2 linked regions of the Homo sapiens genome follow. The protein of the gene in region 2 purifies or fractionates together with the protein of the main gene of each other region. This does not show direct contact. Each region holds a gene or a part of one and is shown on either strand. Other genes may lie near its edges.

Region 1 (3,815 bases), on a different chromosome or scaffold from region 2:
CCCATATGCATTCATTAATATATAGGGCTAGAGGGCTAGAGAGCTATAGACATAAAATAGACAAAAAATTTTTTTGCTCATTTTTGGGTCAAAGGAGTCTTGGGACTCTAATTCTTTTAATTTTTGTGTTATGTGAATTTGTTATCATTTACATGTATTATGTTATTAAGTAGGTAATAATGATAATACTAATAATAAACTTACAAAACGATCCAATGTAGTTGTTTTCAGACTTTGTTCCTCGGAGCCCTAGGACTTTGCAAAGCTGTTTCTGGAGTCATGGTGGGAGTGGGGTGTGGGGAGCCTGAGCAGTGGGGAAGGGTTCACCACTTCCTGTGAGAGGGAAACGGACCAGCTGGGCTCTGAGCTCCCCACCCAGCCTCAGCCAGGGTCCATTTTATATTGTGGGCTTCAGACATGCCTTTGTTTGAAAGCAGTTCTGCTGCTTTAAAATGTTTGATAACCATTGAACTAATCTACCCACCTCCCTTTTTAAAAAAAAAAGGAAAACTTTTTTTTAAGCTGTTTTTTTTGTTTTTTGTTTTTTTTTAAACTGTAAAAACAATACTTAGGTCTGGCTCAGTGTGCCTGTAATTCCAACACTGAGAGGCTGAGGTAGGAGGATTGCTTGAGGCTAGAATTTCGAGACTAGCCTCTGGGCAACATAGACAGACCTCATCTCTACAAAAAATTTTAAAAATTATCCGGGTGTGGTACGTGTCTGTAGTTCCAGCTATGAAGGACTGAGACGGGAGGATTGCTTGAGCCAAGGAATTCGAAGTTAGAGTGAGCTATGTTTATGCCTCTGTACTCTAGGTTGGGTAACAGAGTAGGACCCTGTCTCTAAAAAAAAAAAAATTTAATTTAAATTTTAAAAACTCACCTATCACCCCATCATCTGAAAAACACCCTCTTTCAGATGTGGGAAAAACATGGCTCAGAGGTGTTCAAGAAATGTTGCATTTATTTATTACTTACAAAGCTGTAAGTCAGCTTTATCCGCTGTCTTGCTAGGTTGGTGAAAAATACGTAACAGCATTCAATATTAGGGCTTCTATCCCCATCTAGCTGCACACTGGAGCTGTGCCAAGCAAGGTTCTTGGTCTTATGTTGTACTTAGGCATCAGCAAAGCCTGGGAAAATATCTTTTTTTTTTTTTTGAGACAGAATCTCGCTCTGTCGCCCAGGCTGGAATGCAGTGGCACCATCTCAGCTCACTGCAACCTCCGTCTCCCAGATTCAAGTGATTCTCCTGCCTCAGCCTCCCGAATAGCTGGGATTACAGGCTGGTCTTGAACTCCTGGCCTCCAGTGATCCACCCACCTTGGCCTCCCAAAGTGCTGCGATTACAGGTGTGAGCCACCATGCCCAGCTGGGGAAAATATCTTTAATCTACTTAGTCCTAGAAAAATTATCTTTCAAGTGCTTTTTTTTTTTTTTTTTCAGTGGACTGAAGGCTTTTGCAGAGCAAAAGCCAGGAAGTTTTGTCACAAACTTCCACCAAGGCCAGGAAGCAGAGTCTATTCCGTGCCAAAATTAAGGGAAGAAAAGAGGGAAAATCTAGGCAAATGGAATTTAATATCTCAAAAAGATTATCTTGCCGAGCCATAGTCACATAGCAAGCTGAGGCAGCGGAGGCTTGGGGCTACTTCTCTTGTTCTTGGTTCTGGGTTTACCTTCTTTGGGCCTTATTTGCCACATCTGTAAGAGGAGTGGGCTGGACCGCGCTCCACCATGCCGTATTCACTAAGTGAGCAGATAGAACCATAGAAAGCATGCTCACTCTCAAATCGTGCTCATGGAAAGAACGACGTGTTCAGGACTCATGCCTCCCTTTCTCAACATACCCCCAGACCTGGCCATAAGGGACACCTTTGTGAATGCCTCTCGGACCCTGTACAGCAGCAGCCCCAGAGTCCTAAGCAACAACAGTGACGCCAACTTGGAGCTCATCAACACCTGGGTGGCCAAGAACACCAACAACAAGATCAGCCGGCTGCTAGACAGTCTGCCCTCCGATACCCGCCTTGTCCTCCTCAATGCTATCTACCTGAGTGGTAAGGGTGCCCTTAGCCAGTTAGTCTTCCCATTCTGGGTCCTTCTTCCCCTCCTGGCTTCAAAGCCCACTTAACCCCAAGTTCTACAATCGGATCTCAATGTCCCTGCACTACTCTTTGCTAACAAGGCTTTTAGCTCCTCTTCATCCTTTTCCTACCTGCATTAGAGCAACCCTCCCACCTCTTCCCTCTAGCCAAGTGGAAGACAACATTTGATCCCAAGAAAACCAGAATGGAACCCTTTCACTTCAAAAACTCAGTTATAAAAGTGCCCATGATGAATAGCAAGAAGTACCCTGTGGCCCATTTCATTGACCAAACTTTGAAAGCCAAGGTAAGTTCTTAACCTTTCCTTCTCCTGTTTGAAACCTACTTGAGTCTCCTGACTTTTTTTCTGCTGTAGTCCCATCATTTTGGGGTACATGCTTACAAATTCATCACTTCTACTCCTTCCATCTGTATTTCCACCCTATCTTTTCTCCTTCTCCTTTCTCTAGCCTTGGCCAAGGCAGACATTGTATATTTTAGGCTGGAAACAGGATTCTCAAGTTTCTTCATGCATCTCTACTATATTGAATGGCAAAATGTGAGTCGTGTTCCTATTCTACACATCTGTTTCTTTTTCCAGTCAACTCATCAGAAGACTCTGGTGGCTTAGCAAGTCCTGTGTGTATGTGGGTACCTGTGTACAGCATACATATACATGTGTAGACGTGTATAAGTATATCCTTGTATATGCATATATGTGGTAAGTGCATGTGTGCACATGAGTTAAATGGCTTAAGTGCATTAGCAGAAATTGAACAATTTAGTTTGATGAGTAGGGAGGGAGAGAAGACAGAATATGGAGCCCAGAGGATCCCAACTGGCAAGCTATCTCATCCCCAGTTACCAGATATTTCCACCTTTTTAGGATGGCAAAACACAGACCTATGAGACAGAAAACAGTAAGAGACAATGTCTCAATACCTGGCTGAGAAACAAAGGCTCTGTTCTTGGAACATGCTAGGCTTGGTTCCACATTGGGAGCTTTCCTTAGCTTTTGTTTCTGCCTGTATCCCTCTTCACTCAGATCCTCACATAGCTTGTTCCTTCTTGTCATTTGGGTGTCAGCTCAGAGGTCACCTTGGTGGAGAAGTCTTCTCCCCATTAAAGCAGCCTCCTCCTCACCCTGTAATATCACTCCTGTTTTATTATATTCATTACACTCATCACCATCTGAAATTATGTCATTTATTTGCTTATTTGCCTAGGACATTGTCTGTCTCCCTAAGATACTGTCTCTCTACTTGAATACAGGAACCTGTCTTGTTTCCTTCTGTATCTGTAGTGCCTAGAACAATGCCTCCTATCATAGGTGCTCATTCAGTGTTTGCTGAATAAATGAATGAATGAAATAGAGGGTGCCAAAGAGAGCTACTCAGTAAAAGTGGCTGGAAGACTTCATAGAGGAGGGTTTTTTTCGAGACAGGGTCTCACTCTGTCACTCAAGCTGCAGTGCATTGACATGATCTCAGCTCACTGCAATCTCTGCCTCCCGAGTTCAAGCAGTTCTCCTGCCTCAGCCTCCCAAGTAGCTGGGACTACAGGAGCCCGCCACCACACCTGGCTAATTTTTGTATTTTTAGTAGAGACGGGGTTTCACCATGTTAGCCAAGCTGGTCTCGAACTCCTGACCTCAAGTGATCCACACCCTCAGCCTCCCAAAGGGCTGGGATTACAGGCATGAGCCACAGCGCCCAGCTGAGGAGGTTATTT
Region 2 (3,815 bases):
GCCCAGTCACCCAGAGCATTACCCTAGAGAAGCCAGTACGTGAGGTCTCCAGGGTTTAGGCTCTGGGAGTTCAGGGTGTGGACAGGGAGAGGTTCCGACTGTCCCCAACCAACCCCAGGGATCTCAGGGCCCATGTGTTTTCTGTGGGTCTGAGATGGCCATCCATCTTTTGTGGGGTCACTGAAAGCTGGCTTAGACACTTCTACAGCATCAACCTTCCACCGGACTGTGTCTAGTTCCTGGGCAAGGACAGGAGTGGGGCCCTGGAGAGCCTGGCTCCTGGCCTGCCAGTCCCCACCCCACCCCAGCTGGGCTCAGCGGTCTGCTTGTGCCAAGTCACCTGGTGGCAGAGTGGTCATTGCCCTGAACCCTCAGCGTGCGTCTGCCGTCATCTGATGCTGCTGGAGATCCCCAGAGCACCTCCTGGTAAAACTGGCCTGAGATACAAAGGGTGGATCAGTAAGGGTCAGAGACAGAGGAAGCCTGGGAGACACACGCAGGGGAGGGGCGCTGCCTGTTCCCAAGCACAGCTGGTTTCTGAGGAAGGCCTGGGCCCCGGTAATGGGCTCAGTACCAAGGGTCCCTCCAACGTGGCTGGAGAAGCGGTCAGTGTCACGCAGAAGGAGCCGGAGCCCCTCCCCACGGCCATCCCAGAACAACAGGCCGATGGTCACTTTGTCTGGGTCACTGAGCAGCAGGAGACCCGTCTTGTCCATGGTCATCTTCAGGCTGTGGAAAGACCCAGTGTCTTGAGCAGGAAGGTAGAGACGTGTGCACAGAACCTCAGTAGTCAGGGTGGGGAGTGGGCTGGGCTTCCCCTCTTGTCCAGGAAGTCACGGAGTGGCCTTGGGTGGGAAGGCCCTTAAATCTTCTGATTTCAGTTTCCTCATTGGTAAAATAGGACCAAAGTTAACTTAATGATGTCTAGTTTCCCCATCACTTTTTTTTCTTTCTCTTTTTTGGTGGGGCAGGGACAGGGTCTCACTCTGTCCCCCAGGCTGCAGTGCAGTGGTGTGATCTCAGCTCGTTGCAACCTGTGCCTCCTCGGCTCAAGTGATTCTCCCACCTCTACCTCCCAAGTAGCTGGTACTGCAGGTACATGCCACCATGTCCAGCTAATTTTATTTTTAAGAGAGACAGGGTTTCACCATGTTGCCCAGGCTGGTCTCAAACTCCTGAGCTGAAGCAATCTGCCTGCCTCAGCCTCCCAAGGTGCTGGGATTACAGGCGTGAGCCACCGCACCCGGCCTCTGGTTTTCTTAAATTCAGTTTGTCATAAATTAATTTTATATGATTGAAGGAGTTTCTCTGATGCATCCACTCTGTCCCTTTTGTTCTACAGCTGGTGCACTCTCTTTGGATGACTTGTGTTTAATCATGTGTTTAATGTCTAAAGGATAGGCCTCTTCTCATTCTGTCTCCTCAGATTTTTAGTTAAAATAACCCTTGAAATTCTTGCCTTTCTGGTGTTCTCATGAATGTTAGGTTCCTTTGAGCATGTTGAATAAGACCCTGCTGTTACTCAGAGGTTATTTGAAACAAATTTTCCCTAAACATACACTGTTCTATTGCTTCAATTCAATCTAAAATATGTGGGTTTTTTTCTTTTTTCTTTTTTTTTTTTTTTGAGACGGAGTCTCGCTCTGTCGCCCAGGCTGAAGTGCAGTGGTGCAATCTCAGCTCACTGCAACCTCCACCTCCTGGGTTCAAGCGGTTCTCCTACCTCAGCCTCCCGAGTAGCTGGGATTACAGGCGTGCCACCACACCCAGCTAATTTTTGTATTTTTAGTAGAGACGGGGTTTCACCATGTTGGCCAGGCTGGTCTCCAATTCCTGACCTTAGGTGATCCACCTGCGCTGGCCTCCCAAAGTGCTGGGATTACAGGCATGAGCCACCGTGCCCAACCTATTTTTCTTTATGTCTTCTGTAGCTCATGAAACTATTTGGACTTTCTCTCCCTACAATTAATAGGATTTTACTTCTATTTCATTTTCTAGGCATAAAAATGCTATTGATTTTGGTGAATCTACCAGATAGCAAGGAATTTTAGATCTTTTTTTTTTTTCCTTTTTTCGGAGATAGGGTCTCACTCTGTTGCCCAGGCTGGAGCGCAGTGGTGTTAACTCAGCTCACTGCAACCTCCATCTCCCAGCTTCAAGCAATTCTCAGCCTCCTGAGTAGCTGGGATTACAGGTGCCCGCCACCATACCTAGCTAGTTTTTGTATTTTTAGTAGAGACGGGGTTTCACTATGTTGGCCAGGCTAGTCTCAAACTCCTGAGCTCAGGCAATCCACCCACCTTGGCCTACCAAAGTGCTGGGATTACAGGCGTGAGCCACCACACCGGGCGTAGATCTTTTATGAAATTGGGAAGGTTTTTGGGTGAGCCCTTGGATAAGCTGGGTGTGCACTCATCTGTCAAGTGCAAGGGAGTTCCCGCAGAGGGCTTGGTGAGACAGGGCTGGACAAGGCTCTCCATACTTGGAAAAGGGTGAGCTGTGGCACAGGGTGGGGGCTTGGAGGTCACTGCCCACAGAGGACGAGGGCCTCAGCCCTTCCTGGACGCCCCTCGTGATCTGCAAAGCTGGAAGACTGTCCCTGGAAGGCCACTGTGAAGCAGTGAGCTCCCTCACCCAAAAGAGGTGGCCTTCTGCCTCCATTATTCACCAGCTGCTCAGTATTTGAGGCCACTGACTTGTGTCTCCTTAGCAAAGCTCCAAGGATACGCTAAAGAGAATGCTGGTAACATGCTGTCAACAGTGCTCTCCAGCTTCTCACTATTGTCATCAGAACATCACGTCACTATGTAGGCAGCGCTGTCCTGTGGGGTGCTTGGGGGGCACTGTATCATCTGACGGCAAAGTGCTCCCAACTACACTCTCTCATTGGGTTCTCCCCCCAGCCTTCTGACTCTGGGCCAGGATGATTAGTACTGGTTATTGGTGAAGAAACTGAGGCTCAGAGGGACTTAGCTGCCTGCCCAGGGTCACAAGGATTAGCAGCAGAGCTAGCTCCAAACCACACTGTCTCCTGCATGGGATAGTGACCTGGGTTAGGTCCCTGGGACAACTCCTCAGTGCCCTCCGGAGCTGCAGGGGTATATGGCAGGGCTCTTGTCTCTTTGCCCCTCCTGTGAGTGTAGCTGCTCCATTCTCAGGTCCATGGCCTCAGGCCACCTGCTGGTACCATCATCAGCCACTGTAGCCTGAAAGGTCAACCCCTGCCCCGGGCTCCAGCCTGGGCCTTACCCGGGCATCACTGAGAATAGCGTCTCCTTCCACTTGTACGCAGAGCTTCTTCGGTTCCGAGTCACCACCACGTGTTCAGGGGATGCGTGAACCCATACCAGGGGGTTCTTGAAGGTCACTTCGATCCATGAGAACCCAGCCTTCTCCCTCTCATACTGGCCAGTCACCTCAACCCCTGGGAGGACCAGACCAGAGAGGTCATAGCTGGGCCCCAGCCAGGTCTGACACCGACCTGCATGGGGAGTCCCCCCTGATCACACCCCCTGGAGTTCTGCAGCAGCTCCCTCCCTCATCAGGAGGGGTGCCCCTTTCTCAGCACTCCTTCACACTGGGGGCTGGCTCCCACAATCTCTCCACTTGTCCCTTGGTGTCTAAGGCTTTGGAGGGGCCCCTAAATCCTCGGCGACGGCCACCCTCAGTTGAGGCCTTTGAGAATTAACTTGTCTCCAGTCAATAAGCCTTCAGAACGCCCCATGGAGCGCCTGGCCCTGAGCTAGATGCCGCGGCCAAGGGTAAGATGGAGAATTGGTGCTCCCTGCCCTCAGGAAAGACATTCCTAGCCTGAG

The links.
Region 1: the proteins of ITIH4 (region 2) and SERPING1 purify together in Homo sapiens (affinity purification with mass spectrometry, with the first as the bait; one large-scale study listed by BioGRID). This does not show direct contact.

Annotation. Positions count from the first base shown.
Region 1 is NC_000011.10:57,604,157-57,607,971, forward strand, and holds part of SERPING1 (plasma protease C1 inhibitor precursor), read left to right. Parts: intron 1-1,853; coding exon 1,854-2,057; intron 2,058-2,251; coding exon 2,252-2,391; intron 2,392-3,815. UniProt on the Homo sapiens protein: Serine protease inhibitor, which acrs as a regulator of the classical complement pathway. Forms a proteolytically inactive stoichiometric complex with the C1r or C1s proteases. May also regulate blood coagulation, fibrinolysis and the generation of kinins.
Region 2 is NC_000003.12:52,813,635-52,817,449, forward strand, and holds part of ITIH4 (inter-alpha-trypsin inhibitor heavy chain H4 isoform 1 precursor), read right to left. Parts: intron 3,425-3,815; coding exon 3,250-3,424; intron 730-3,249; coding exon 575-729; intron 438-574; coding exon 341-437; intron 1-340. UniProt on the Homo sapiens protein: Type II acute-phase protein (APP) involved in inflammatory responses to trauma. May also play a role in liver development or regeneration.